3 separate regions of the Homo sapiens genome follow, and all the other regions are linked to region 1. Evidence: fine-mapped expression QTL. A gene starts in region 1. Each other region holds a variant in brackets. All regions are shown on one strand. Distances are between the middles of the regions.

What was found. PIP is the estimated chance that this variant, and not a neighbour inherited with it, causes the effect.
Region 2: its variant is fine-mapped to the expression of THBD in whole blood (TOPMed, PIP above 0.99).
Region 3: its variant is fine-mapped to the expression of THBD in whole blood (INTERVAL, PIP above 0.99).

What each region holds. Positions count from the first base shown.
Region 1 is chr20:23,044,540-23,054,559 of GRCh38, forward strand. It overlaps THBD (thrombomodulin), which reads right to left and starts at 5,133. Exons shown (of 1, transcript NM_000361.3): 1 at 1,094-5,133. The coding sequence starts at 4,965. The coding sequence ends at 3,238.
Region 2 is chr20:23,014,150-23,024,169 of GRCh38, forward strand. LOC101929707 (a long non-coding RNA gene) reads right to left here. Exons shown (of 4, transcript XR_937352.2): 2 at 2,607-2,709. Among named protein-coding and RNA genes, the nearest start is that of SSTR4, 16 kb to the right of the region's middle. The variant C/T (reference allele first, on the strand shown) is at 4,988.
Region 3 is chr20:23,121,241-23,131,260 of GRCh38, forward strand. LINC00656 (long intergenic non-protein coding RNA 656) reads right to left here. Exons shown (of 4, transcript NR_034149.1): 2 at 7,725-7,925; 3 at 7,389-7,489; 4 at 3,828-5,298. Among named protein-coding and RNA genes, the nearest start is that of LINC00656, 6.4 kb to the right of the region's middle. The variant T/C (reference allele first, on the strand shown) is at 5,002.

The DNA.
Region 1 (10,020 bases):
GCAACTGGTCCCTGGGAGTCTCCCTCAGACCTGGATGTCCAATGATGTGAACAGAAAGCAGAGATCACACAGGTTGACCCATGGCTCTGGTTTCACAAGGTCTATCCTGATTTTAAATTCTCAGGGATAGTTTTTAAAGCTAACTGATTTGTTTATGTGGTCCTGGTATCTTTCCCTGAGAGGCACTATGGCTATTTAGCGTTTTGAGAATCTCAAGTTCAGATGAGACCTATAAACAGAACTGCTGATCCCCCAGGCAGCAGGAAGTGAGGAGGACAGGGAAGCTCAGGGCCCCGCACAACTAATGTCCTGGGGCCCAAGTGCTGCATGAAGGGTTTTTGCCTCTAGGTTTTGAAAGTGTGTTTTGGTCTTCCAGTGTTCCTTAAGAAAATGCCCCTCTTCTGGAATAAGAAGAAATCCTAACGCAATGAGGCCCTACAAGTCAGTTTGACAGTGACTGGGAGCAGACTCTTTTGACAAACAGAAGGCTGGGTAACAGGGGGCGAACTATAAGGTGTCACTGTCTCCTCTGGTCTCCCAGCCCCATTTATCTGCACCTGTCCTGCCCCCATTTGTGTAGCTCTTCCTTCACAAAGACTTAGTCTGCTACTTAGGGGGAGCATGGCTCAGCTTGTTATCTCCATAGGGCACTGTGCATGGAGCTTCCCCAGCACACACACACACACACTAAAGCCATTACTTCTTCTGCGATGGATGTCAAAATCTCCAACCCGGTCTTCACAATAATCAGTCAAACTAAAACTCATGAGTTCAGCATTATCCAGACATATAAAGCATCTGAATATTTGCCTGGACTCTACTTGCTTTTAATTTCTTCTTTAAAAAATCTTTCCGAGCCCTGCATATTGCATTCAGCCAGCCCTACCACCTTAGAAAAGTGAGCCCAAGAAACGTGTGCATTGAAAAGATGATGTTGTTAATCTCCAAAAGAGATGAGAATGATTTCATACTGGATGAGACGTTTAGAAATGAATATTTGAATGAGAGCCACAAACTGAGACCCTTCATGACTACAGTGAATTTGGATATCTCGCAGAGGAGATAATGCCAAACCATACACCGGACACACAGCTGGGATTCGCCAGATGCCCCAGGAAGGGTTTATTTAATTCATTCCAACAAATGATCCTATAATGCATTTATGCATTTAAAAGCACAGAGACACAAGTCCTCATATATGAAGTTGTTATGGTTACAGAAAGAAAATAAATATTTGTGCACACAGAGATAGCATGAAATCATTCTACAGTGAAAATAATAGCCTCTGGAAAAAGCTTTGAAAATCAGAGATGGTGCCACCACCAGACAACACAAGTGCTGGGGTACAGGGCAGCCCTCCATGCATCTCATAGCATTTGCATGGTTTGTGAGCCCCATTTAATGACATAAAATGAGGGCACTGAGGGAGGAAAAGTGAACAGACACACAACCCGAGAGCACATTGTTATTTGTTTATTTTGTACAAGTGATGTCATAAGCAAGGATTTTGCCTGTGTTCTAGATTATCTCCAATAAATAAATAACTATGTACAAATATTTTGAGTTTACAAAATAGAAGAGGAAAACCTTTGTCTTACAAAAGTTACATTTCTATGATACATTTATTTCCATACACTGAAGCAGGATTTCATTCCTAGCTTAGCTGAACCAAAGACCTTGCAGACCCTGTGTGGCAGTGTCTAGAGCTGTGTACCTAGCCTTTTCTACCAAAGAGCAAAGCTACACAAAGAAAATTCCTCAGTTTCTTGAAAATAAGGGCCTGACTTGGCCTGCTACTTATAACTGATCTATATTTCATGTATTCCAGAAAATTGGAAGCAGTCTGGAATGGTTGTCCTCAAATTACTGAGCAGACACACCCCCTGCAGATCTTGTTAAATATAGATTCTCATGAACTGGATGGGGTGGAGCCTAGGATTCTGCATTTCTAACCAGCTCCCATGGGCAGGGCAGCTTCCAATTCTTGTTCAGGGGCCACATTCCAAAAGGCCTCTCTGAAATGGTAGAAATTCTCTGAGGACCTGATTAAGGCTAGGCCCTAATTGGGCATCCTCCAGGATCCATTCCCAAGCTCCCAATTCCACAAGACCAGTAGAGCTGGTTTTATTTTGGTCTACCAGTGACAAGGAACAGTGACAGTCAATTGCTAATTGGCATGAATCATGCAGTTTGAAGCTTTCTTGAACTGTCTCCTGGGAGGTGTTTGTCTCTTCTCTCAATCTAGAGCAACCTTCTGAACATTTTCAACACTGTCAAAAATAAGTAATAATAACAAAAAAGGAAATTGCATAAGAAGATTAGCAACAATTACCATTTTTCAGTACAAATCAAAACAGCAACAAAATTCAGGCTCACTGTTTAAAAGTAAAGATAAATACCTCTTTGGGTGTAATTTCTATGACAGTCCAGCAACATCAATTTAATACCTTTTACATCTCAACCTTTGTTTAAAATTATTTTGCTCTGGGAATCTGAAATTTCAGGATAAATTAGCAAATCTGGTGAAAAAGCAAATGGCCATTTTTATTTTTAGTGTTTTTGTTTCTGTTTCATGTAGGGGTTCTGTCTGAGCAGACAGCTAAGAGCAAAAGAAGTAGGGTCAGGCACAGGTAGGGTGACTCAGGTGAGTTGGCCCAGTTCCTGGGAGGAGAAAACTAGGAAGAATGGGGAATAAGTGGGGCTTGCTTCATAAATGTGAGAGGGCTAGGAAAAAAAAATTCACCAAGATAGTTTACCTGTCACATGACAAGTGGGAGTTTGTAGAGAGAGAGAGACCGGAGAGCTGTGCAAAGTGGATACTGGAGACATACAGGTAAGAACAAAGGAAACAAACAAAAACCTAAATACTTAAAAAAAATAAATATTTTAGTCATCCCTAGCCCACGAGGTCAAGGTCTGCCCAGAAGGCTGCCGACCAATAACGCTCACCCTCCTGCGCCCGGTAGTGAGGACCTGGGACAAATCGCAGTCTGTGTCTTCGTTACAAAATTGCCATCATTGCCCAGTGGTCCAGTGACGTCACGGAAGAGGCCGAGGCTCATTCTCCTCCCTCTAATCACCCCCTCGCCAGTTAGCCATGGAATAGAAGAAAACAGCTTGGGGGGTGCGGGGAGGGTCTTCTCCAGCTGTAATGCCAGCTAAGGTGCTTTGGTAGCAAAGCTGGGGGTGAGGAGGCACAGGCTCCTGGACGGAGCCAGGCTCCTGGACGGAGGCCGCTCAGAGTCTCTGCGGCGTCCGCTCGGTCCGCACGTGCTGCAGCACTACCTCCTTGGAAGGGGCCGCGCACTTGTACTCCATCTTGGCCCTGGCGGCGCCCTGCTTCTTGCGCAGGTGGCAGAGGAGCGCCAAAAGCGCCACCACCAGGCACAGGCTCGCGATGGAGATGCCTATGAGCAAGCCCGAATGCACGAGCCCCACGGCCGGAGGAGTCAAGGTGGAGCCGGGCGTCGGGCTGGGCGGGGGCTCGCCAGAGCCGCTGTCGCCACCGTCCACCTTGCCGGAGTCACAGTCGGTGCCAATGTGGCGGGCAAGGGCCGAGTCGGGCCCGCAGATGCACTCGAAGGTACCGGGGAGGTTGTGGCACACCCCGGAGCAGAAGCCGCCGTTTTCGCACTCGTCGATGTCCGTGCAGATGAAACCGTCGTCCAGGATGTAGCCTTCAGGGCACTCACAGCTAGCCTGGGTGTTGGGGTCGCAGTCGGCTGGACAGGCAGTCTGGTTGCAAAACATCTGGCACCTGTGCGGCTCGTGGGGAATGGGCGCGAAGCCCTCGGCGCAGACGCAGAGGTAGCTAGTTTGGTTCAGGGGCTGGCACTGGTACTCGCAGTTGGCTCTGAAGCACGGGTCCACGGGCTCCACACACTCGCCGTCCACCAGGTCGTAGTTAGGGTAGCAGTGGCACTCGAAGCCACCCTGTGTGTTGACACAGCGCTGCGGACACGGACTGGGCTCCAGTATGCAGTCATCCACGTCCTCGCACCGGTGTTGGTCGGCCGCCAGCCGGTAGCCGGTCTCGCACATGCACGAGTAGGAGCCCGGCTGGTCGGGGTTGGGAACGCAGAAGTGCTCGCAGAGGTCGTTGCAGGACTGCGTCGCGGATGCGGTGCAGGAGCGCCCGTCTGCCTGCAGGGCGGCGCCGGCTGGGCACTGGCAGCGGGGAGCCCCAGGGATCGCATTGCACGCGTGCTCGCAGCCGCCGTTCTCCACGCTGCAGTCCCAAGCGCCCGGCGCCTCCCTGGCCCAGTGCCCCTGGACCGCTCCGGGCGGCGCGGTGCACATTAGCTGTAAGCCGAGGGGAGCCACCGCGGCGGAGCTGCCCACCGGCAGCGCCTGGAAGTCCGCTCCGCGGGCCGCGAACGGGGTGCCGTAGGTGATCGAGACGGCGGCAGCCGCGGCGCCGGGCTCCACAGCCAGTGGCCTGCAGGTGGCTGGGAAGTGGAACTCGCAGAGGAAGCCATCGGCCTTCACTTCGCACTGCTGCTCCTCCCAGATCGGCTCGCTGGGCACAGTGGCCTCAGCAGCGGAGACAGCGACGCACAACGGGCCGCAGAGGGGAGCCCCATTGAGGTCGAGCCGTGCCCACCTGCTATAGCTGGTGTTGTTGTCTCCCGTAACCCACTGGAAGCCGCGCAGGGGCCCGAGGCGCTTGGGGTCGCCGCAGCCGGGTGGCAGCTGCAGGCCGATCCAGAGGCGCCGGCGGCCAACGCCGCCGTCGCCGTTCAGTAGCAAGGAAATGACATCGGCAGCCACCGAGGAGCGCACTGTCATTAGGTGGCCCCGCAGTCCGTCGCAGATCTGACTGGCATTGAGGAAGGTCGCGGGGCCCGGGTAGAGCGCGAAGCAGTCGTGCTCGACGCACTGGCTGCCACCCGGCTGCGGCTCTGCGGGTGCGGGGAACCCCAGGCCGGCCAGGGCCAGCGCGCCAAGGACCAGGACCCCAAGCATGTTACCCAGGCGCGCCGCGTGCAGGCGCCGGGGAAAGCGCGGGCACTGCGACAGGGCCGTGCCGGAGCAGAGGGGCACAGGACGCCGATGGCGACAGCCTCTCCTGTCCGTCCCAGCCCAGACACTTCTTGCCGCTGCGCGCAGCCCCTGCGAGGCAGCCTCTGACATGCGGATCGGCCAGGGCTCGAGTTTATAAGTGCCCGGCCCTCCCTCCCTGGACGTTCGGGAAAAGGAAGGAAGTGCCTGGTGGGAAGGGCTGATGCCGCATACTCGGATTGCTGGGTTCTCTGGCCGCCCTTGCGCCCGCCCTCGCGCATGGGATCACCTCGCCGGGATGAGTAAACCCTGCCCTGGCGCAGGGAGGTTCTCGGGCGGGGCCGACAGGGGCAGGCGCCAGGGAAGGCCAGCACCCCTGTAACAAGACGACTGTCCCCGCCCACCACTCGGGCCCCCACGCGTGCAGCCCTCTTTCATCTCTTGGTCCTCCTTTCTTTCTTTTCATACATGTTACAGCCACTTCCAAGGAAAGCCTGGATTGCAAGAGCTCTGGGAACCGGAGACTTCAGAGAAGAGGGCTTTGAATGGGGAGTGGGGGAGGTGGTGCACAGGACCTGCAAGACGCTGGGAGGGGTGATCGGCACCAAGGGCACTTTGGGAGGACCTGCCTAGGACGTGGACTTCCCCGAAGACAGGATCGCAAGGAGAGACAGCTGGATCCTGTCCGCGGCCAAGGTGCCTGGCTCAGGAAACCAGCGGAGCGCGCTTGGCCTCACAGGACAGTGGGTGTGGCTGGGGTGACGGGGCAGGGTGGGGAAGACTGGCCTAACACCAGCGCCCTCTGCCCCATGGCTGGCCAGGGACCCGCGAGTCCCTGGACACGCACTGGCCAACGCCAGACCCCATCTCATCGGGTGGGGAAGTCGCGGGGACACTGTCAGGGCGCCGAAGTCCGGACCCGGCTCAGAGGCGGTGGCAGGTGAATTGCTGCGGCGCCGGGTAGGGGCGGGCGCGTGGGAGCGAGTCAGCCTGGCCAGTTTCGGCCCAGCTTCCGAAGGATGGTGCTTCTTGCACCCCAACAGAGTGGCTGGCAACCCCCCAGGGGAGCGCGCAGGATCCCAGCTGATCCCACCCGGGTCGGCTAAGGAGGTTTCCATTTCGTCCAGAGTCCGAATTGATACCCACGTGCATAGAAACGCCACTTGCTCGGCAAAGGGCACTGAAGAGCCACCGTCCTGTGGATGGGCAGGGTGGGGGGGGGGCTGGAGGAGGACATGGGAATCCGTCACTTTCGACCTCTTCCGGTGGTTCACTTACCGGGAATGCGGAAGAGTGGGTCTCCCCCTCGGGTCGCCCCCATAATGGTGAGAGGCAAACTGTTTAAAAACACCCTTGCCTCTCTCCTCTACTGTCCTCACAACGAGCGCCAGGGGGCGGCGCTGTCGAGCTCTAAACAAAGCCAAGGAAGTTGGAGAAGTTTCGGGCTAAAAAGGGTTAAGGTGTAGGAGCACAGAGTCCTCCTTCTGGGGTTGGAAGCTCCGTTCCCGGGCAGCTCAGCGTGGATTCCGCTGCGTTCACCTCTTGCCTCCAGGGCCCAGTAGATCCTGGGCTTTAAACAAGAACAGAGAGTATGGCGTCTGCCACGTGCGACAGACACGCACCGGTGGGGTGGGCCGGGCTGGACTGGACTGACCTGCAGTGACCAAACGGGTGGGGCGTGGACACTCTGAAAGTGAAAAAGGCAAGCACGACTGTCCCGCCGCACACTCCCCAGCGCCTTGGGGCAGAGAGCCTCCAAACGTCCCGCTGAGTTGAGCTCTTCGCTGGGAAGGCCGCCCCAGCACCCAGGAAACGAAGGAGCTGCTGGACACGGGGGTCTGAAGCTCCCGGAATGCACACAGCTGCGCCTCCCCTGACGCGGACCCCCTGGGAAGAGGAAGGGAAGAGCGGCAGATAGCACAGTAGGGCTTGTCCGGCGGGAGCAGTCAAGCTGTGGCTGCCTAGGCTGAATCAGGGGGTCGTGACTCCGGTGCACAGCCTGCCTACGCGGGACGCAAAAGCAGGGCTGCCTGCGGTGCCGCCATGGGGGTGAGGGTGGAGCTTCAGATAAGGGCAGGAACCTCGTTGGGGCACTGCTGAAAGGTCTCAGAATGTGGGGACAATTCCCAGAGTGAATGAGACAAGAGAGGGGGACAGGATCGGTTACAGAATCAGAAACCAGTGCAAAGTGAAAATGTGGGGTCCATTGTTCAATTACAAGGATTCAAGACTGTGATAGCAAAGTGTTAAACAAGGAATGAGGCCCTGGGGGGGTGATGAGAGGGCCCTTCTGAACCTGCCAGCCCTAAAAGCCACTGAGGGACATTCAAGGATCAGATCTCACCCCACACCAGGCTGGCTGAGTTCTTGGATGGATTCTAGCTGATTCACCAACACAATGTTTCACTGGACGTCCTACACAGGTCCACTTGCACCCATTGCTGATTCTTGCAAAGAAAAAAAAAGTGTGAGAACAGCCCCAATAGCTGAGTCCACTAAGAACTCAGTGATGTCTGTGAAACTTGGATCAACCCTATATGAGGAGGTGCAGATGTTGGATGTTTCTGTATTAGAAAGAAACTAGAGCAACAACAGATAGAAGCAGAGCATTGTCCCATGGGGGGTACCACAGTGTCTGGGTTGCCCTACACAAGGATGGGTGGACATGACCCACTTGGCTTTCCCACCTGTAAGGGCTTTACCCCTGACCCTCAGGATACCTTTGCCTTGTGGGGCCTGCCCTCAGCCGCTTTGTTTTTCCTCTCCAGCCAATACCTTGGAGGCTTTGCATATTTTAGACTACCTTCTGGTGACTGAAGGTCCCCTGTCTGTGTTCTTGCCCCATCCCTATCTTCCTATCTGTGCCCCCTGCACACCAGGGTGGGCCACTCCTTCCTATCCCTTTGCAGATAACACATCCACTTCCCAATGCTTGGCCCAGTTCCTGGCCCAGCACCCTCACTCTGGCCCACCAGCAGACTTGCTTTACTCCTGAAACAGCTCCCTTGAAGAACACCCATCTGGTCCTAAATACTGTTGCCAAAATCTTGTTTTCAGCCATCCTTCTAGAAGCCTTGGTGCCATTTGCACTTGTGACCCTTCACCATTCTCAAGGCTCCTCCTCCAATTACTTTTGAGACACATGTTTTCCTCCCTTCCTCTCCTGTGAGCCTTGGGGAGGCCCCTGGGATCCTCTTGTACCACCCACTAGAGTGGCCATTCTCAAGGTTTTGCTGGTGGTCTTCATCATCTCTTTACAACCCACCTTTTGGTGAACTTACCCATTCCCCTGGCAGTGATAGCAGTGTCCAAGGAGATTGGGGAGGGAGTATTCTAGAAGGGACCCTTACCCCATCTTTCCCAGTATCAATAGTTGGTCCACTGAGGTTTTAAACCATGCACTTGCCTTTGACTTTCTGCTCTCCTTCATCCACTGCCTAGTTTTTGTGTCTTGTTTCCCCTGATCACTGCTCCTGCCTTCTCAATTTATGCTGAGACAGTTGGGTCCCCAGCTCTTTTCCTTGCTGCTTATCTCTCCAGCTCTCCACCGTGGCTGAGGCTACTCTGATCCTCATACTCCCTCAGTGCTGCTCCCACCCGCTGGGAGAGCCCATACTCTTTCCCCTCCGCACTGAAGATGCTCGCGATAGTGCCTCTACTCTGTGGCCACAGATGAGAAAATTTGCACTCAAGGGGCTATGCTGGAATTTGGACCCAGAGCCTGCACCCCTTGCACCTCACAAGGCTTCAAGGACCAGTGTTCTGCTGGTCTCCATGAATGAGGAAACATCCTGGCAAGGGAGGCTCCTGCTCACTGTCAGAGAAGCACCTTGTCCGCTCATCTCCACCCTGTAGTTCATGTCTCTCCCTCTGCTAGCAACATTCTCGTCTGCCAGGCTCTTCACCCACTGAAATCTTTCCATTCTTTCAAGTCCCAGTTCAAGCTTCCCCATCAGCAAGTTTTCTGAATAACCCAACCAGAACTGATCTGTCTGTGATTCCCATAGACAGGTCGTTCTCTCAGCTCTTTAGTACTCACCACTCCCTCCCTGCCCTGTACCTAATCATGCATATACCACACTTTTTGCTGCACTTATACTCCAGATTCCCACACATTTTTGTATCCCCTTACACCTAACAGCACGCTTTGTAACTAGACAGTGCCCAGAGCTTATTGGAGCACCTGTGGTAGATGTTTCTTTGTCCTCTCCAGGGTGATTTTCTCACATTCACCTGCAAAGACAAGGATGGGGGACCTCAGAGCCTCAGGGTGAATTAAGAGTGTGGACTTTGGAGCCGACTTGGCTGCACTGGAGACCCAGCTCCGGCATTCACAAGTTTTTGTTTATTGTTAAGATTTGACTAATAACCCCTCCCCGTGTAGCTCAGTTTCCTTGACTGTGTAATGGGAATAGTCCCTCCTTCAAAGTGTTAGGATGAAGATTAAATGGGTTATACATGTAAAGCATTTAGAACAGAGGAGCCGTAGTCAGCTCTCAATAAATTTTAGCAAAAAAGAAAACACTCAAGTCCCTAGAATTTGGATTCGGCATCTGATTGTATTCAATATCCAGCATGGTTTCTTTTCCATGGTAGGGACTCACCAAATGTCTGTTGGATTTAATTTGTTCCAGCCAAGCATTTCTACCACTAATAACAATAAGCAATTGTGAAAAAAAATCAGGGATGGAGGCATAGGGAAGAAATTGAAGCATGTCCTGTCTTAGGCTTCCCATCTGCCCTAGAGACATCCATAGTGACTGTCCCCATTGCCCAGGTGTGGAAGCTGAAGGCCAGAGAGAATCAGTGACTCTCCAATGTCACACAGCTAGTAAGTGGTGAAACAAAGATTCACCGGCCTGTGGTAAGGATGAAAGAATTACAATGTGGAGTATGTCTGAGCCCCCATTTTGCCACATACTGGCCTACTTGGCTAAGTTATTTCAATCTCTGGTGTTCTTTCCCAAAAACTGGAGATATAATATCTAATATGTAGGATTAGTGTAAAATAAAACTCTT
Region 2 (10,020 bases), 30 kb before region 1:
TAATCTCAGCTACTTGGGAGGCTGAGGCAGGAGAATCGCTTGAACCCAGGAGGCGGAGGTTGCAGTGAGCCATTGCAGTCCAGCCTGAGCACCAGAGTGAAACTCCATCTCAAAAAAAAAGAAAAGAAAACACCAGGTATAGGAAACAGTGTGTGCAAAGGCCCTGGGGTAGGAATTGTGCTGGACTGTTTAGCAGAAACTGCAGTTTATCAGTGAGCCTGAGACAGGCTAGGGTTCAACAGGCAAAAGATAAGGGTGAAGAGCTAAGCAAGGTCTCACAGGTCAAGGTGAAGAGCCAGGATGATGTTCCCTCAGCCTTGGAGAACCCTGAAGCTCTGAGCTAAAGAGTGGCATCTCTGGTCTCTTTCATTTTTATTTATTTATTTTTTTGAGACAGAATTTCACTCTTGTTGTCCAGGCTGGAGTGCAATGGCAAGATCTCAGCTCACTACAACCTCCACCTCCCAAGTTCAAGCGATTCTCCTGCCTCAGCCTCCTGAATAGCTGGGATTACAGGCACCTGCCACCAAGCCCAGCTAATTTTTGTGTTTTTAATAGAGACAGGGTTTCACCATGTTGGCCAAGCTGGTTTCGAACTCCTGACCTCAGGTGATCCACCTGCCTCGGCCTCCCAAAGTGTTGGGATTACAGGTGTAAGCCACTGCGTCTGGCCCCTAGTCTCTTCTAAAAGCTGAAATGTTACCACCTGAGTATTTTGATTTCAATCTTTATTTCTAATTCTTCTAAAGTTATAGCAAAAATATTTTTTAAATATGCTTGCCTTGCATCCATTGCTAACCCCAGCTTCCAGCTCTCTTGCCAGGGCCTGGAAAACAATGGAGAAATAGAAAGGGAGCGAATGTTCACTTCACTGCCCAGCATTCACTCCCAGGATGGGGAACACCATGAGCATGGCAGGTGCTCCTAAAGCTGCAGAGCCTGGGGGTGGCAGGGAGGCACAGCCACCCAGGTGAGACCGTCTGGGCTGCTCTCAGAACACAGAGAAGGTCCACAGCCTGCCCTGGTGATACAAGGCAGGCAAGGCCCCACATTGGGGCTTAGCCTGAGAGGGCTCTTGGCTTCGTGCAGGAATGAATTCAAGGGCCAGTCTGTGATGTTAAACAGTAGATTTTCTTGAAGCAGATGTGCACAGCAGCATCAGAGGCTCTGCTCCTCATGGAGTGGGGCTACCTTCAGGCAGTGTGCCCAGAGCAGCAGATCAGAGGCAGGTCTGCACTCACATTCTTACCCAGTTTTAATTACATGTAAATTAAAAAGCAGAGTATGCAGACATTTCTAGAAAAAGGATGGTAAGTTTTGGATCATCTGCTCACTGCCATGGAAAGGGGTGGTAACCTCTGGATGTTGCCATGGCAATGGTAAACTCACATGGCACACTGGTGGATGTATCTTAGGGAAAGCTACTTCCACTCCATCCCTGTCTTAACTAGTCCTCAATGTGGTCTGACATCTGAGACCTATCTCCAGAATTGAGTCCCACCTCCTACCTCACTGGGGCACACTTTATTATCCAGGGCCTTAAAGATGTGTTGTTGGCTAGTTCCCTCCCCTTTATCTGATCGGGCTCATCCTAAAAGGGGCCTCTTCAGAACCTGCTCTTGGGCTCCCCTTCCCCAGGCCTCAGGTGTGTGGCCCTCAAGCTGAGGCTGCCCATGGCAGGCTTCTGCCTGGTCCTGGGCTGATCTTGGTGCCCGAGCAAAGCAGTTCCTGCAAATGGAGGCCTAAAGGTCCCTCCTCCCATCAGTCTGTGTGTGGAGTTTCTAAGTTCCTGCGGAGACCCAGCTAAAGCTCAGCCAAGGGCCTATTACAAAATCCCCAGGGATCTGAAACATCTCAGAAAGTGTTAAATTTGACAGACACAGAGGAGGTGATATGATATGCCAGGCTCATACTACAATGAATGTTCATATTAAATCCTCATAACAAGTCTATAAGCACAGCTTCTAAAATATCTACCTTCTAGATTAAAAACAACAACAACAACAATAAAATCATAGGCACAAATATACACACTGTCTGGGCCAGGGTCACAGAACTGGTAAAGACACCTAGGATTTGAATGAGCATCTCTTTCCAAAGTCTGTATTCTTTCTCTCTACCATGCTGCCACAAAACCCACAAGCTTTTAGATGAATTGCAATCCCCCTCCACCTACCCCCACCAAGATCCCACTATTCAGTGAGGCAGCAGGCTTCAAGTGCAGCTCAATATGGCCCAATTGCTGAAAGAGTGTTTTGTAAGAAATAGTTCAGGAGGAATTCAATTTCATAAAGACAGGCTTCTTCATAATCAATGACGTCTGAATAACATTTTTATCTAAAAGTATACTCTATTCTGCTGTAGTTCCTTTCTGATAAAACTGAGTATGTCTTCCATTCCACGTTGCTTTGACATCTACCTATTTGCTGAGTGCCTGACATTATTCTAATAACTTTACTCCAGGCATTGTATTTTTAAAGTTCTCCAATTTCTATTTTTAATCATTTCTCTCTCTCCACTTAGAATTTCCATCTTTTTGTTTATTATAAGCATGTCTTCCTTTACTTCATTGAGCATACAGCCAATAGTCACTTTAACATCCTCACCTGCTGATTCCAATGTCTGGGTCCTCTCTCTTCTGTTGTCATCTTCCTGGTGCTTCATGTACTGAGTAATTCCGTATTGTCTTCTGGCATTGTGGTCAGAATGCTGTGGAGTGAATTATCCTCTAAGAACAATGCTAATGGTTGTTTATTAGCTTGCTTATTTGTTTTAGCTGGAAAATAATTCAGCTGGGCTCAAACTGGAAACCCTCTTTTTCAGGGAAGAGAGCAAATGCAGTCAGCTCCCTGATCCTCAGCTGGGTGCCTGGCGCCTGCTCTGTGCCTGTGTGGCTCAAGGGTTGGTCAGGGAAGCGAGCAGAGTTCATGCACCCCCTCTCTGGACTCCTTTTCTCAGGATTCTCACTCCCTAGCAGCTGTGGTCCTCTCAACTTTGACCTCTGGTTCTTCATGCCAGTAAAGAGGCAAATTATTGATCAGGGTGTTAACTTCCCAGAGTGGCACAGACCAGGGCCTGCCCTTAGTTGAAACCCTGAAAAAATTGGGCAGCTCACAGCAGGTCATTCCAAGTATTGTCTCTTCCAGAACTGAAAAGCTCCTTTCCAGACCTTTCTGCAGGCCCCCGCTGACCACTTAAACGTCCCCCTCATTTCAGCCTCATTGCTGCCCTGCAAGGAGGGGAATGCCTTAAAGATCATACCCATTTTACTGAAGGGGAAACATAGCTCAGAGAAGAGAAGTTATGGCTTCAAGATAACAGCTGGCAAATGTCAGCCAGGAATCAGACCTGGGTCAGCTGGACTCCCATGCCCACATTCTTATTCTTTCGGCTGTGAAACCATCCTTAGCTGCTATCATAGTTGTGTTTGTTCAGCAGTGGTTTTGAACAAGCTATCAAAAGAAGCTGTGCTCTGGAATGCAAAGTGAAGAGAGGTGCTGAGACATGGGGTGGGGGGAGGTGCTCAGAAGGCTCTGAAGGGAACACAACCCCCCTCCATCCTTCGCTCAGAAGGGAACACAGCTGCAGCTCCCCTCTTTTAGTTCTAACTGGAGAGCAAGGCAGAGACCCTTCACAGATGCTGAGAGGGCTGGGAGGGCTAGCCAGGCCACCTGTGACCTTTTTAGACTTGCAGAAAGCAGGAACAGAGAATATTCTTCAGAGTGCTTGGAGGAAGAATGCAAACCTCCTTAACTGATAAGTGTTGAAGAAACCTGGATACTAGAGACCCCTGTGCTTCCCTGGCCAGAACGAGCCTCTTCCAGCACCAGAGGGGAAACGAGTAGTACCTGCCACAAACCCAGAGCCCAGGGAGTAGGCCAGACAGGGAGCCAGAGAAGAAGCTGACTGTACTGGTGCTCATGACAAGCTTAGGTTAATTTCCCAAGACACAATAGAGAGGAGGACATGCCTGCATTATATGTGGGCAGGATCAGGATGAGAAACCGGCGACACTGCAGAGAGAAGGGGTCAACTCCCTGTCCATCCCTACTCACTCCAAAAAGATTCCTAGGCCTTGGTCAGGAAATGATTTGACTTTTCTGGAAAACTCATGCAATCTGACTCTTCTAAGAGACTGCATGAACCCTGGGTTGTCTGAGTTTGAAGCCCACTCCACTGTCTATCAGCTGTGCTGCCTTGGAAAAATCACTTCACCTCTTAGGACCTCTATTGTGTCATCTGTAAAATGTGGATCATAATAGTCCCTACCTTGCAGGGGAAGGGAGAAGTTGGAGGATCAAATCAGTTAATATGTGTAACACTCTCAGAACACTGCCTGAAATATAAGATGCACTAAATATGTGCTAGCTTCTATTATTATTTGTACTTAATACTATCACTGCTGCTATTAATATGCCTGCTACTGCTATTACTACTACTGTTGTTGTTATTATTACTACTACTATTACTACTGCACCTGTTGCTATTATAATTATTACTGTCACTACTGCTGCTGTTGCTATAATTATCACTACTCCTATTACTATTGCTGGTATTGCTATTACTACTACTACTACTACAATTATTATTCATGAGGAGAAGCTGAGTGGCTGCAAATGCTTTCTTAAGCTCTGCATCAATTCAAAATAGACACAGACTCAAAAAACACAGTGGTACAGTTGTCAGATTTAGCAAATACAAACACAGAATGCCCAGTTAAATTTGAATTTTATATAAGTAGTGGTTTTTTAGCTTATGCAATAAACTAAAAATAAGTAAGCTCCAAACTATCGTCTCATACAATATTTGGGACTTATTTATCCTAGAACATGATTGATTGTTTACCTGAAATTTAAATTTAACCAAGTATCCTGTAGTTTGACAACCCTACTTGGGAAGTGGGTGGTGACTTGTTCCTTGAACACCATTGGCCTTGTGTTCTCGACACACACAGACACACACACACACACACGCTGGCAGGAGGCTT[C/T]GCTCTGGACTCATCTTTATAAGGGCAGCGTTCCGGGCTGGGTTTCTAGAATCAGAACGTGGGCCAGCATTCGTGTTCATTGGACGGTAAGGGAAGAGGGTGGGGATGGGGAACAGAGCTGAGCCAGGATGAGCCCCACTGCATGACGACAGCATGAATGACCCCCAGAGTGGGTCTCTCCAGGAGACAGGAGAAAAGGACCCGCTGTGGGTCCATGTCACTCATTGCAGGGAGCAGGGGAGTCTTTCTGGGAAGGTGGCTCTCCTTGGTCTGAAGGATCATGATACCTGCAAGCTGGCTCCCCCATCTACCCTAGTAACATCCAAAGGCACCCCCAGAGCTGCAAGGAGTTCAAGAGCCAGGCACCACGCCATGAGTGCCACTCAGTGGCTGTCAGTGCAAATGCCCAGCAAGACCTTCTGGGACAGGATGCAGCAGCTGCAGCCTGGAACCTGCTTTCTCCTGTGAACAGAGGCAGCCTGAGTGGAGGAAATAGCCCTGCGCTGCAAAGACTCGTTGGCAGTGACAGTCGGTGCCAGGGGCTGGCTGCAGACAGTCGTTCCATGCAGGGATTTGGCTGAGGCAATGCTGACTCGGGTAAAAGGGCTTTATGCTGTTCAAGGGCTCTTGACAAATCGCCTGTATCTTTTTAGAATTCTGCAATTCATAAGCGCAGGTTATTTTGACAAAACTTAGTGTCTTGGTTGTCAGATTCAAGAGAAAAAGCACAAAATTAAGGCTTATCGAAATATGCAGAAAAACACGTTGCCCAAGGCCTGAACATGGCCAGTCATGAGATGCCTGTGACAGATGAGAAAGCACCTGTCATTTCATGTTGAATTTTTGAGGAAGGCTTATTTCAATGAATTACATTTTTTTAAAAAAAAAGATTGCTATATCTTGCAGTAAAAAACACTAGACTTTACCTGCGGTAAAACACTAGACTCTAAAGCTTCTCCTTCCCACCTGCACGGTGGCAGTCAGATAATCAGATGCTCAGAGACAGGTTCCCACAGTCCCACAGCCCACATCTACTCAATCCACAGCCCTCATGGCACCCTCCTACCCAGGAGCACCTGGAGAATGTCCTGATGCTGTATGGGGCTGAGGGAAGTACCTGCGGAAACACAGCACATTTCCCCAGAAGGCTGCAGAGGTCTCTGCTACTCCGTGGAATCCTAGAACCCCAGCTCTGCGAAAGGGAACGAGGCCTATGAACTACTCACAGGAGCTAATTAGACATGCAGGAATTTACTTAATTAAATAGTTACGTATTGAACAGATGGGCTGTTGTCAGAGGTATTCGAACCAGAGCGACTCCATCTTGAATAGGGGCTGGGTAAAATAAGGCTGAGACCTACTGGGCTGCATTCTCAGAAGGTTAAGGGGTCATGGGGTGAGATAGGAGGTTGACACGTGAAACAGGTCACAAAGGCTTTGCTGATAAAACAGCATGCAGTAAAGAAGCCAGCCAAATCCCACCAAAACCAAGATGGTGACGAAAATGACCTTTGATTGTCCTCACTGCTCATTACATGCTAATTATAATGCGTTGGCATGCTAAAAGACACTCCCACCAGCGCCATGAGAGTTTACAGATGCCATGCAATGTCTGAAAGTTACCCCATATGGTCTAAAAAGGGGAGGAATCCTCAGTTCTGGGATTGCCCAACCTTTTCCCAGGAAACCCATGAATAATCCACCCCTTGTTTAGCATATAATTGAGAAATAACCATAAAAACAGCCAACCAGAAGCCCTCAGGGCTGTTCTGCTTATGGAGTAGGCATTCTTTATTCCTTTACTCTCCTAATAAACTTGCTTTTACTTTACGCTATTGATTTGCCTTGAATTCTTTCTTGAGTGAGATCCAAGAACCCTCTCTTAGGATCTGGATCAGGACCTCCTTCCAGTAACACTATGGGCCAAGCAGGGTTTTAGACAGCAAGTCTGTCGTAACAAAAAGATCTCGGAAAATAGAGTGTGGTTTGTAGCTATCGTTACTGACAGTCTTCTCTTGAACACGGTCACAGAGTTCTGGAAACTTAACACAAACAGATATTTTTAAGAAACTGTGTTATTTCTAACAGTTGTGTTATTTCTAATAACTCGCAAATAAGTCATAAACATATCTCAAAAGAAAAGTATACATGGGAGAAGTCAAATGTGGACTGGGAGGGCCTCCATTGTGGCCCTTTAAAACACAGACAAGGTGTTGTAGCACAGCAGTAAGCTTTTCTGGAGGCATTTCCTTCAGGCTCACCACCCATTGTTTGGAAGGAAAAGTGAGCACATTTACCACCCCTGGCAGAGATCTAAGGTCCTGATTTCAGCCCACAGCACTTCAAGCTAATCAAGAGACTCTGGTATATTGCACTGTTTATACATCCAAAGCCACACCTGTTATAGTGAAGCCCTCTGTATTATCTTAGTAACTTGTATTTGCAGAGGAGGAAGAGCTTTAAAATAACAGCCATTATCTTGTGTATTTGGCATCTCCAAAGTATTGTCCAGATCTGCACATTGTAACAATGCTAAAATTACCAGGAAAGATAGGCATCTCCGTAATACCTCAGAGTTGCTCAGTGAGGCAGGCAAAGCAAAGAAAAGGGAAGGTAGTGCCTCCCCTAAGTCCAGGCAGCCTCACCCATGGCAGGACAGAGGAGAAGGCACCCTGCAGGACAGAAGAAAGAGTATCTTTTTGATGGTGTAAGTCTACTGGAATGCTAATTGCACATGTGGATTAGACACTATTTTTACCACCCCCCCCCAAAAAAAAAACCCAGGTTCTTTTGCTTGGCAAGTAAGAAATCAATCTCCTTGAGACTGTAGGTTTGATCAACAGGAGTTTTATTACTTGGCACAAATAAGCATGCTGTTGGGAGTACTCTCCAAAGCCATGTCTCCCTGAGGGAAAGTGACAGGAGGACTTCATGGGGAGATGGAGAGAAGAGAGGACGCGTCATGGCATGTGGAGGAGGAGCCTCAGTGGTGCAGACACAGCGAGTCATCACACCAGCACATAGGTTGCATGTTATGGTGATGAAGCTGTGGCTCATCCCAGGATGGAGACACTAGCATGGTCATGAGGAAAGTTCACTCGGGTTTGTCTATAAGCTGCTGAGGTCTACTGAGAGCTGGTTCCAAGCAATAAGACAACTGCATTCCACACAAAATGCAGGGCAGTAGGCTGTAAAACACGCTGATTGTTCAAGGCGATTACATTCCTATAATCACTCCAGACCCTCTGGAGTGGAGAATCATCTCTGTCCCATAAAAGACAAAGAACTTCACTTGAATCCTCCAAAGATGGTGACAGGTGGATGTCAAAGAAATGTAGGCATGGAGATTGTGGGGTTTGCTCTGGTACCGTTGGTGCCAGTAGGAAGGGAAAGAGGGGATGTCGAGTTTCCATCCCAGGGGGCAGCAGTGAGAGAAGGAACATGCCTGGGGGCAGTGGAGACCCTCTTCAGACAGACACCAATGGCCAACCAAAGTCAGGAGCACTGGTTCTCAAACCGAAGCACCAGCAGAAAGAGACCCTCTCTTTCTGTTCATGCTGTCAGTAGACTGAGGTCTGAAAAAAAATTAGAGCTGCCTTTGCAATGATTTCATCAACAGTTGAACAAGTTAAATGCATTGCTTTGTCCTATTCGGTTGTGTCAAAGAATTAAAAGGTAAAGATGAACCTCTAAATTTAACATTTTATTTGGGAAGAAAGAATTGCAAGACCACATATTGGGTGGTTTTCGGTGTGTCTAAAGAACAAAGAGATGGTTGGAGGTTTTATAACAAAGAGAAGTGTTATGTATTGCTCTTTGAGAAAGTTCATTGGCACTAGTACAGTTCCGGTGAGGTGGCAACTTTTGATTGGTAAGTAATGGAATGGGTATAATTGGTCTTAGAGTTGCAGCAGGTCATTTTAGCAGCTATTAGATAAAACTGGTTTCAGGTTACAGCAGCCAGGCTTGCAGAAAATTATATTCTTGGAGCAATGTTATGCATCCTGAGCACCTTTCCCTCTTGGCTTCTTGGCGGTTTTATTTGGATATGATAAGAATGACCCGATTTGTATGATCAACTTTCACAGTTGTTTCTTGTGTGTCTTTCTGGCTCTAAGCATTTCTAACACCTTAGAATAGCAAATATGGAAGAAAAACCAGCAAAACATGATACTCTTTAGTCAGCAGAAAGAAGAGAAAATGCAGAATGCTCATGGACATCTAGCTCCAGTGATGGGGGCTGAAGGGAGCTGAAGGGAGCACCAGCAAGTGAATGAGGGGTGAGGGGTGAGGGGTGGGGGACCGCAGGCCCCTACTCCATCTTTCTCAGCCTTTCTTTTTCATTCAAAAGACCACTAGGATGGCTAAATAGTAGAAAGGAGTATTTTATTGGTGAAGCCATCCTCACAGGGTTAGCAAGAATTCTGGACAGAAATAGAGTTATAATTAAGCATTAATCAGCCTGCACTTTGACCCACTTCCTTGTAACTGAAAGTCATGCAGCACTGATACTGACCACTGGCATCCCTATTGTTCCTATGAATAGGATTTCTGATGTTAGAATCATAAGGCTTTTGTTTAAGAACTGCCTAGGGTGTTTTCCAGATCCCAGATTCCTACTAAACACCCACCAGCATGAAGACCCCCATAGAAGAACAGAATCAGCATGAGAAACAGTTTCACCACTTCCCCATCCCATGACTTCACCCTGCACTTTTCAACCAACCAACCGTCCCCACACTTCAGCCCACTCCAAAACCGTTAACATCCCTTATACCAAACTCCTCGGTGTAAGGTTCTTGTATCGGTTCAAACCCCCAGAGCACGCCAACAGACAACAGGAGGCAGTGTGGAGCAATATGCTGTTCTAATGAGTGCCTGCGTGCAGGCAGGCTGAGGCCTAAAATGGAGTCAGCCCCAAGTGAGGACGGGGCATAGGTTTTACAGTCTCCTGTAAACAGGAAGTGTCCTAGTATAATGTAACTGCTACATTGTACACAGACGGCCTCTTTCTCGATCTTCAGGGGTACCTG
Region 3 (10,020 bases), 77 kb after region 1:
GCCTAGACCTCAAGCACCTTCCTAGAGCACCGACTTCTTGCAGCTTTCAGGACCTGCTTCTGGTTTCCTCCTACCCTGCACCCCATCCCCCCCTCCATCTCTCAAGCTGCCCCTTATCTTGCCAGATGAGGAGGTTCACCACAGAAATCAGCAGATGAAGAAGTAGATACATGAGAAACTTGCCCCAAATCCAAGAAAGCAGACTTTCCTCTCGGAACTAGCCCCCTGCGCCTGGATGTTGTGCGGCAGGCCTTGTTTCTGTCGGGCAGATGGCTCCTGGGTTCCTCCCCTCCTGCCCCCCGCATGCCCCGCCCCACCCCCAGGACTGCTGTCACCAGGCATGTGTATCCACAAAAAGATGCTTGCCCAGCGCCCCTGTGCGTCCCATGCCTGAGCAAGAAGCTGCACTTCCTCGGGCCTCCCAGCTCTGGAACCTGCTGCTGGATGCCTCTTATCTGAATTGTGACTCCTCAAGAGATAAGAGCCTTTTTCTTAACAGAAAGGCAGGAGTTTGAAGCCTTCTGTATCCTGCATCTCTGAGCTCAGGCCTCCCGAGAAGCAGGAGCCGACTTCCAGCGGAGAGCACTGCTGCTGAGACCTGCCTGGTGGTCAGCTTGGGCTGGTGAGCCAGGGCCAGGCACAGGATGGTGGGGGTGGTGGGGGCTGCAGAGGGGGAGGGTGGTAGCCTGGAGGACCTGCTGGGCTTGCAGGCCCCCACCTGTCCTGGGGAACTGAGCAGAGGTCACGACGGCAGGACAAAGCCCCTTCTGAGAGAAGGATCTGAATCCATTCCTCGCTTCCAGGTTGTTGTTATTTTTGCTGTGCTTTTGATGACACCAGCACTGCCTCTCTACGTACAGCTGATTAGCAACCCTGATGATGACATTTACGGGGTGTTCATATGTCAACTAGAGCATCTACGTGTTCCTGTGGTTTTGGAGCAAGAGTGATTTGAGTTTCAGAGATTTTTACTAATTCTTCTTCCCCTACCAGAAAAAAAGATCTTACCATTTGAGAGTGAGATGTAAACCCAGCCCTGTCTGACCTGAGTCTGTGCCCTAAGCCTATGCTAAGCCAAGCAGTGCCTGGAGCCACCACAGGTCCACACAATTCGTTAACATGATGAAGCAAGGATGGAAATTGGACAAAATAGTGTGCCTACTGAATCTAAGAATGAAAAATGATTGCACTCCTACTCTGAGTGCTTTGGAGCACTGCCCAGTTGGGCAAAGGGTCAGCGCCTGGGCAGAGGTCCCCACAACCTGGCAGGAGTGTGGTCGGCCACCCTATGGGCCTCCATCATGTGCAGTGACAGCGGGGCTGTCATGTCACCGTGTGGGAGGGCTTGCAGGTGAAGTGGTCTGGGAGGGGTCCCCCAGACAAAGCCAAGGTTCTGAGAGTTGGCCCGAACACTGCTGGATTCCACGGCGGGGGCTTGGGACAGCCGGACTCAGAGACAGTAGGAGGTGACAATGTATATACATCACAATGATCACAATATAGCCCCACACGTGCCTTCCCCACCAACAGTCAGCTTGCCATGTCCCTTCCCCGACATCCCCATCTTAGTCCCAACACAGAGGCTCCCTCTGCCCTGTGTCTGTTTAGCCAGGATGCCACGGTTCTTCCCCCTTCTCCCATGTCCTCCTCCACACACCCTTCAAGGGCAACCCCAGAGATTTCTCCTCCATGATTTCTAAAGTCAGTGGTAAATCTGTTCCTCTTTAAAATCTCATCACACTGTTCACCACTTCCCCTATAATACAGTTCCGCATGGCCACGTCATACAACCCTGTCATATTGGTGAGCAATTGCTGTGTAGCCAAAGACCCCAAAACTCAAACAGCATTTATTATTATTGCCCCCATGTCTGAGAGTCAGATGTGCATTTGCTGATCTCAGCTTGTTTGAGCTGCTGCAGGGTTGGGGCTCTGCTCCAGGCAGGCTTAGCTGTCACCACATGCACACATACATTCTGGGCCTCTGCTGTGCGCGTCACGTTCACTGAAGATCTTGGGATTGGGAGTTAGGGCGGTGGGAGGGCCCAGCAAAGTCACCTGGCGATGGCAGGGACACAGGGAGGAATGTAGAATGGGGCCGATGATGGGACCCACACGTCTGCAAAGCTGCGGTCTCCTTGAGGGGTGGAGACAGCAACAACTCACCGCACGCGGTGCTTCAGTTCACCATCTCCCTGGGACATTAGGGGTCCCCGTGTTATCTCATTTTGCTCTGGTTTGCATTAGTTTTTTATCACTTCGTAGATGAAGCCACTGACACCCAGAGAGGGAAAGTGGCCTGACCAAGGGCCACAGCAGGGGAGCGAAGGAGCCCCACAGTCCGGCAGGAACACAGCCTCTCCCTGGCTTTCAGGTTCACTGACATCTTCTCATGGCCTCTGTAACTCACCAGGCATCAGGGTGTAGTCCTTAGACCAGTGTCCCACAGCTGCCACAGAGTGGGAGCTCACCATCAGTTATAAGTCACTAGAAAGGCTTTTGGACATTATAAGCTACAATGGAAAATAAGTCATCTGTGGATTTTTGTGACAGATTCCAAAAATTTGAATATTTTGTCTACTTAGGTTTTTGGTTAATTTTATCCTCAAAACTGTTCTGCAGTGATTAAGCTGTACAAACTGCACCATGGGCGAATTGGCATATTCAGAAATGACTGATATTCTTGATTTCAGTTTTTTACTTTGTATGTAGCTCCTCAAGGAAACATCATGTAACTTGATTCCCTGGGAAGGTCCAGTGCATGGCACGCATGGGCCAGAGGCCACTCTCCTCCATCCGTAGACCACACGTGTGGACAAGCCCCCAGCATGCCTAGAGGAGCAAGGCCAGGGCTGTGCATGCTGAGGCGCCCGTGGCCAGTGTCAACAGGAAAAACTAACTCCGCCAGTTGTACACGTCAGCCAGGTGTGGGGTCATGCATTTCTCAACCCTCGGGGACTCCTCAGGATGGGATGGAAGATGTGTAGGTAGATTTTGAAGAAACTGCAGATGGTGTTTCAGAGAGACGGTAGAACCATCCATCTCCACTGTAGCCCAGGAATAAAACTGTGCAGCTTGACATCCCCTCTCCCATTCAGGAATAAAAAGGAACAAACAACTGATACACACAACATTTGAATCTCAGAATCACTATGTGGAGTGAAATAAGTCAGATACAAGAACATCTGTATGATTCCAATCACATAGAATGAAAATTAACCTCTAGTGGCAAAAAGCTGGTCAATGGTAGCCTGGGCCCAGGAGTGAGAGGGGCCTGTCTGCCAAGGGGCACGGGGAACTTTAAGAGGGAGCAGAGATACACTGTGGCGGTGCTGCCAGGGCCCCTTAATAATGCACTGTGAATGTGCGCTTTGTGAGACAAAGTAGTAAACATAGGAAACCACGTTTGCTCATTTGTGCTTGGCAGCAGAATTTCACAAAGTGCCTGTCTCTATAACGATGTGCAGCTCCCCAGAAAGATGCTCTGAAGACAAAACAGGATGGAGCACACACCCTCTCCGGACTCTTGCCTGAGTCACTATATTCTTTGCAGATAAATGGCCCTGGTCTTACCTTTTCCTACACGTAAGATAACATCTGACAGGGTCAGTGATTATTGCTCTGTAATTGAATCCATAACCTGATGCACTCTGACACCCAAGCTTTCATGTGACTTTGCACGTACTGGACCTCCCACCTATATGTCAACTGTGACCTGAAATACAGAACCTCAGTGGAGGCTGCTCCAGGGCTCTACGCCACAGCCTGTAGTCCTCGGTAAGCTTCTGAAGAAGACGAACTTTAATTCTTTAAAAGCTTGACAATAACTTTAAATGGATATGATTTATTGCCTGTAAATTATCCCTCAATAAAGTTGATAAGGATAAAAAGAAAAACTCTGTGATCTGGACACAGAACGAGCAGCCCTGGGTTATCTTTGCATTCTAGAAGGGGCCTAATATTTGTGTTAGTAGCAACAGCAGTGATGGCTGGAAGCCAGATTGTGCTTACTTGCACCAGGTGCTGAGCTGGGCACTGTATGCATCGGAGGAGGGGCATGGTGGCATGCTAATAGACCTTTATTTACAGTAACAGGCAGTGGGGTGGGTTCGGCCATGGACAGAGGTTTGCAGACATCCCAAGTTAAGGCACTCTGGCAGGTGTGCCTGGCGGGTCTTGGGAGCTGGGCCTCCAGAGGTTTGTGCTGACAAAAAGGCCAATGACCCCTCCTCCTGGCATTCTTGTGGGGATGGATGTGATGGGGTGTGGCACACAGTGATCAGGCCAGGTAACGGTGACTGAGACGCAGGGAAAAGGTGTTTCATTTAAGAAGGGTCGAGGTCAGTCTCCCCTCAGACCCAGCTTCCCTTGAGCCAGCTCAGTCCAAAGAGCACGCTGCCCTTCCTTCCGCACACTGGAGCACGCAGCCCTGGACCCACATTTCTCAACAGGAGCAAAAAAAGGAAGTCGGGAAGAGAAGCACAAAGCCAGTGAGTGAGGACTGGGCTTGCAGCACCCCCAAGGGCTCCCCAGGGAGAGGGTGGTTAGAACATCTGTGAGATTGCAGTCTAGGGTGACTCAGTGGAGCAACTGTCAAAGGTGCTAAGCTGGGATTTCTCAAGGCCCATCTTCCCCAGAGCTCCTCCCAGCCACAGACCCACAAAGGGCCTCCCTCATGGGTCTCAGTTACACCAGCTTCTCCCCACAGCACCAACAATCCTGTCAGCTTCTTCCCAGGCAGCAGCAGGCCTCACATCCCCACCAAAAGGGACACCATTGTGATAGCCTGGGCTGCAGAGATGCACGCCCTGCAGGGACAGCTGTAGGTCTTGGCACAGATACAGTGGCCTGGGCTAATCTTGAGCTGGGCCTTTGCCTCCTGGGTTACTGATGAGAAGCTCTGAGGCTGAGGCCAGTGGATGCCCCCCAGACCTCTCCACTCTCCCCAAGCACCCAAGGCCAGTTCTATGACTGTCCTGGTGAGTGCCAGATGCAGGGAAAG[T/C]GGCCCCCTGTGTGGGGCAGGTGGCTTCTGCATTTCTGATTAGGGGGCCAGGAAGGAGGCATTCAGGAGAAAACACCAAGTCAGAAAAAAGGTTCCCAGGACTGGGGACGAAAGACTCAGAAGGAGGGGAAAGAGGAAGAAAGCTGTAGGGGAAGGGAAGGGAGGGGGATGAGAAAAACGCTGGGGAACACCACTGAAGTTACTTCAAGCTAGCAACACTGGACGCTCAGGTCTTCTGTTGCATGGGTTACCGGGTTACATGCCAAGGGCTCAGTGGCTGCCTGTGGCTGGTGGCTCCTGTACGGGACAATGAAGATACAGAACTCGTCCATCATCACAAAAAGTACTACTGGACGGCACTGGCAAAGCCTAACCACATGTAAACTTTACTCAGGACATGAGGGGTTCCTGGCCTTCCGCCCCCACCCCCGGGAGCCTGGGGCCTTGGGTTTAGGCTGTCACTCAAACCCAGGGTCTCCCCACCTCGCCACTGTGGGCATTTGTGGCCAACCACTGCCTGTGATAGGGACTGTCCTGGGCACTGTAGGGTGTTGAGCAACAACCAAAACCTATCAGATGTCACCCAGTGTCACCCTGTTGACAGCCACTGCTCTAAATGGAAACAATGTGGCTTTGGGGTGAAAGGGGACCTGGGGGAAGTCTGGATCTGTCTCCAGAGCTTGGAGCTCCCGTGGGCCTGGCAGACGCTGGGGGTCCAGGGTCACAGGCTGAACCTGAGATGTTCCAACAGGAGGGGCCTGCCTGAGGGCCTGGGCTCAGAAATGAGGGGGCAGGAGTACATGCAGAGGGGACCCCTGCCTAGGGAGCTCAGGTCCTGCCTTGCAGGGACCTGAGGGGCCAGGCTGGAGGGAAGAAAAACTAGAGACCAGAAGATTCTAGAACACCAGATACAGCTATAGCAGAAGGCAAGGGGACTTAGAGTGATTTGGGCACTAGGATCAGGGCTGATGCGGGAGGGCAGGCAGGAGTGCTGGGGGGTTGCCTTGGTGGGGTTCGGGGAGGGGACTGAGCTGGGGTCAGGGACAATCAAGAATTCCTGGAGGGCAGCAAAGTAAAGAGGTTAAGCTGAGAGGCAAGGAGGCATCAAAGGAAGCGAAGAGGTGGGGACCAAGGGGACCCCAAGGAGTCAGGACTGAGGGGGCTGCCTGAGTGGGAGAAGAAAGGAGTCTGGGCCACAGGATTCTGAGGAATCTCACTCCTGAGTTGGGACCAGTGGGAGCCATGAGCCTGGGAAGAAAAGGGGCCCTGATGCGGGGCCAGGCCTGGGCTGGAGATCAGAGCCAGCAGGCCTCACGGAGCAGGATGTGAGCAGGGGGCACAAAACGCAGGGAAACCCAGGGGCTGTGGGCCACTAAGGGCTGGGGACAGCACATCAGGGCCCTTGGCCTGGCCGAAGCACAGCCAGGAGGTTTAACTCCAGGTGGAGTGGGCAGAGGTTGGTACTCGGGTCACATGGGCATGGCAGTTAGTACATGGACCCGGAGATGCCTGGACTGGGGCCTGGGCACTGGAAGTTAGAATGGGGGACTTTGGTAATGGGGATTGGCCAGGGAGGAGCTGGCATCGAGGGGCCACAGGAGACAGAAACTAGGCAAGGCAGCTTGACCTCGGCCCGCTGGGAATCAGGGGTCTAGGAAAAGGAGGAGTTTGGCGTGAAGGTGAGAGGCACGGGTTCCAGGGCACATAGCCCTTGTCAAGGGTGGGCCCATGGCTGTGGAAGGGAGTGCTGTGGATTATTGGACACTGGGCAGGGAGAGGCAGGGTCCAAGACAGCCAGGCTCTGCCTTGGCTGGGGCCTAAGTAAGGGTTTGGGGACCCAAGAGAGGTCTGTAGGCTGGAAATGAGCTGGACAGGCCAGAGTTACAGGGCCTAAAGCCTGGGAACAGTGACCGGGCTGAGGGATGGGGCAGGCTGGCCCTGGGAGGCCGAGGGGTCCAGGGGTTCCATGCACTGCAGGTCACCCTGCTGCATGGATAGATGGTGAATGTGGTTTTGGCATGGGCAGTGGCACAGCGGGAAGAAGACTGTGAAGCCAGCAGCAGGGACAGCCACGAAACCCTCAGCCTGCTCAGCATCTCCCCCTTTCCTCCGTCATCCTGGTTGGTGGCAGCCCCTCCGCCTCATCTCTGCATGGGGTGGGGGGGTAACTTTATATTATGAACTAATCATCATGAGAACCCCATAAGGAAGACCATATGGTTATCCCCCTTGCACAGATATATTGAGTCACTTACCCAAGATCACACAGCTAATTAACACCAGCGCCTAATTCAAACTCAGGCAGCCTAGTTCTGAGGCAGCGCTATTCAATCAATATGCACTTAGGGAACAGGCGGCCAGGAAGTGCAGGTGGGCCCCACCCTTACCCCTGCTCTGTGCTGAGGCCGCTGCCGAGCTGTCTATTCAGAGTCAGCTCCTCTGGTGCTGGAAGATGCTGGCACTCAGTGCTCCATCGCCTCTCAGTGAGCTGATCATGACAGGAGAATGACAGAAAATGACCAGGTGTTGCCACCCACCACTGTGAGGCTGGTGGTCCCTGTCCCTTAGAGAGGGCGAGCTGGGCTCATGGGGATGCAGAGGCAGCTGCCCTTTCCCACTGGGTGACCCTGGTGGAAATCTGGGAGCTGAGGGTGTGGACTGCCTGCAGGGAGGCCTCACCTAATACCTCTAATAAAAGCACCCCTCGTGTGCCGGGCACTGACCTGGAAGTTGGAGTGACTCACTTGAGGCACCAGAAATGCTCGCTGCAGTGCAGATGTTAGGACCTGGGTTCAGAAAGCAGATCCCTAAATGAGCCTCTGGGGTCCACGGCTTCTGGTCCACGTGCCCACGGCTTGGTGAGGTCTGGGAGGTCTCCCTGAGGGAGGCAGGACTTGAGTGGGACCGTGAAGGGCAGAAATAACCTGAAAAGTGGGGACAAGGCAGAGGATAGAGAAATGGAGGGAGGGAAGGCCTCCCAGGGCACAGTCCTTCTCGGAGGCCCCGAGACATGCCTTCTCCCCAGTTACCCTCCAATAAAGGGAATGCAGCACCACAAGAAGACTCAGTGGCACCATCCCTGGCTGCAGAGGGGCCACCCAGCTGCTCACGGTGTCCTCACTCCATTCTCATTCTTTGCCTAATGCTGATGTCTCGCATGGAATATTTTTCTTATCTACTTTGATAAGACATGGAGGTCAGAAGAAAATAGTTCTCAAACCAGAGTTGGCCTAAAACACTACACAGGCTGTAAACCACAGATTTCCTTCTGCATACCATCCCTGCTTCCTCTTCCCATCTGACTGTAAGGGAAAGCAGGAACTCCAGAAAGGGGTCTTTGTAACACACTTCCAGGAGATTTTTCTGCAAGTGGTCTCAGGCCACACTTCAGGAAACAGACTCAGACCATCAGCACTGGAAGGAATGGTGGAGTTTGGCCAGCCCAGTGTTTCCAACTGTGCGGATAAGACCCCTGCCGGGATGACCCTGGGAGAAGAGGTGAGGGTGAGCAGGTGCGTGGGTGCAAGGCCCCTTCTCAACCCAGGCAGGTCAATGTTATGTTTATGTGTTTTTATAGGGGCTTCTGGTAGTATTAGGTATAAGAGGGGTTTCAATGCTTTTAAAAAAACAAAAAGGCTGCAAACCACAAATCTCACCCTACAGTGTCACTCATGGACAGGGCCAGCCGGGAGTGTGAGCAAGACACAGGGCCTTGATGTCAGCCAGACTGTGGCCTGGGCAATGGGGTTGAACTTTCCTGAGACTCTGGTCCATAAAAGGCAGATAACACCTTCCACCTTGGCCTCCAGGGGACAACCCATAGGCCCCCCCGGGGTCAGTTCCCTTCCCTAGTCCAGGACCAAAGGGAAGCCATTTCCCAGTTCCTGGCCCAGGCTCAGTCCACCAAGTATGGTGGGAAGGCAGAGGCACGGAAGGCTTTAGCGGTACCCTCCAGGTGTTTGGGGCATAGCTGGGGTACAGCACGCAGCCTGAGCCCTGTTGAGGCTGCTGAGAGCTGACAGAGTGGGCTTTGCAGGGAGACAGACACGGTGGGCATTCTGAGGAGGTGGACTATAGCAGCAGGCGGAAGCAGGGGGCCTGGAACCAGGAGTGGAAGAGCAGAAGAGTTTCGAAGCAGTGCAGCCTTCTGCTGGGTGTTTTGGGTAATTCTGAAGTTGGGCGTGGACAGGAGGGATGCATGAGGCTGGGCACCCCACACAGACATGGGGCCTAAAAATGCTGGGAATGAGAGTCACATCGGAGGACCCTCCACAGCCCCCGGCACTCATCCAGGCAGTGATGCCTCCAGTTCACACCCTGGGTGGGGGGCAAATGTTAGTATCGACCTCCCTGAAAAGTAGCAAGGAAGGCTTTTTTCTTTTTTTTGCCAAAACTTGCATAAGACTTAGAAAGTTCCAAATGGCTCTTCTTGCTTATCCAGCGCTTTTGGCTGCCTGTGACACACTGTCCCTGAAGCACCAAAATTTCATAAGAGCTGAGGATAAAACCCAAAGAGGGCCACTCTCCAAGTCACCCAACATCCCAGACTTCACACTTCACAGGGTGAAAAGAATGTAGTCTTCTAAACATGATGCAAAGGTGTTAGCAAACTCAGAAGGTCTAAGTCACAGCAAGATTTTCTTTTATTCCACTTCCCTGCCAAGGATTTCAGTGGAACAAAATAAACCAGACCTCCAAACAGCACGACTAAGTGTGAAAGATTCAGTTATCTTTAGGTTTCTTCAAGCAGTATTTGGCAAGCCGCTGTTTTTGGATCACGTATTTTCCACAATAAGTCAATAGATATTCCATTCAAAAAAAGAAGCAAAATGAGTTTGAATGTTTTGTCAAATTATGCTTGAGCATAGCTGTATACTTACCCTGGCTTGGCAATTAAAATATTTATTAGCATATTAAATTCACAAACAACTATAAATAAAGAAACCTGGTTTACTTAAAAGCAGTGTTGTCCATTGGAAAACATGGCATCATGCTATGGATTGAGTGCCCTGTGTAATC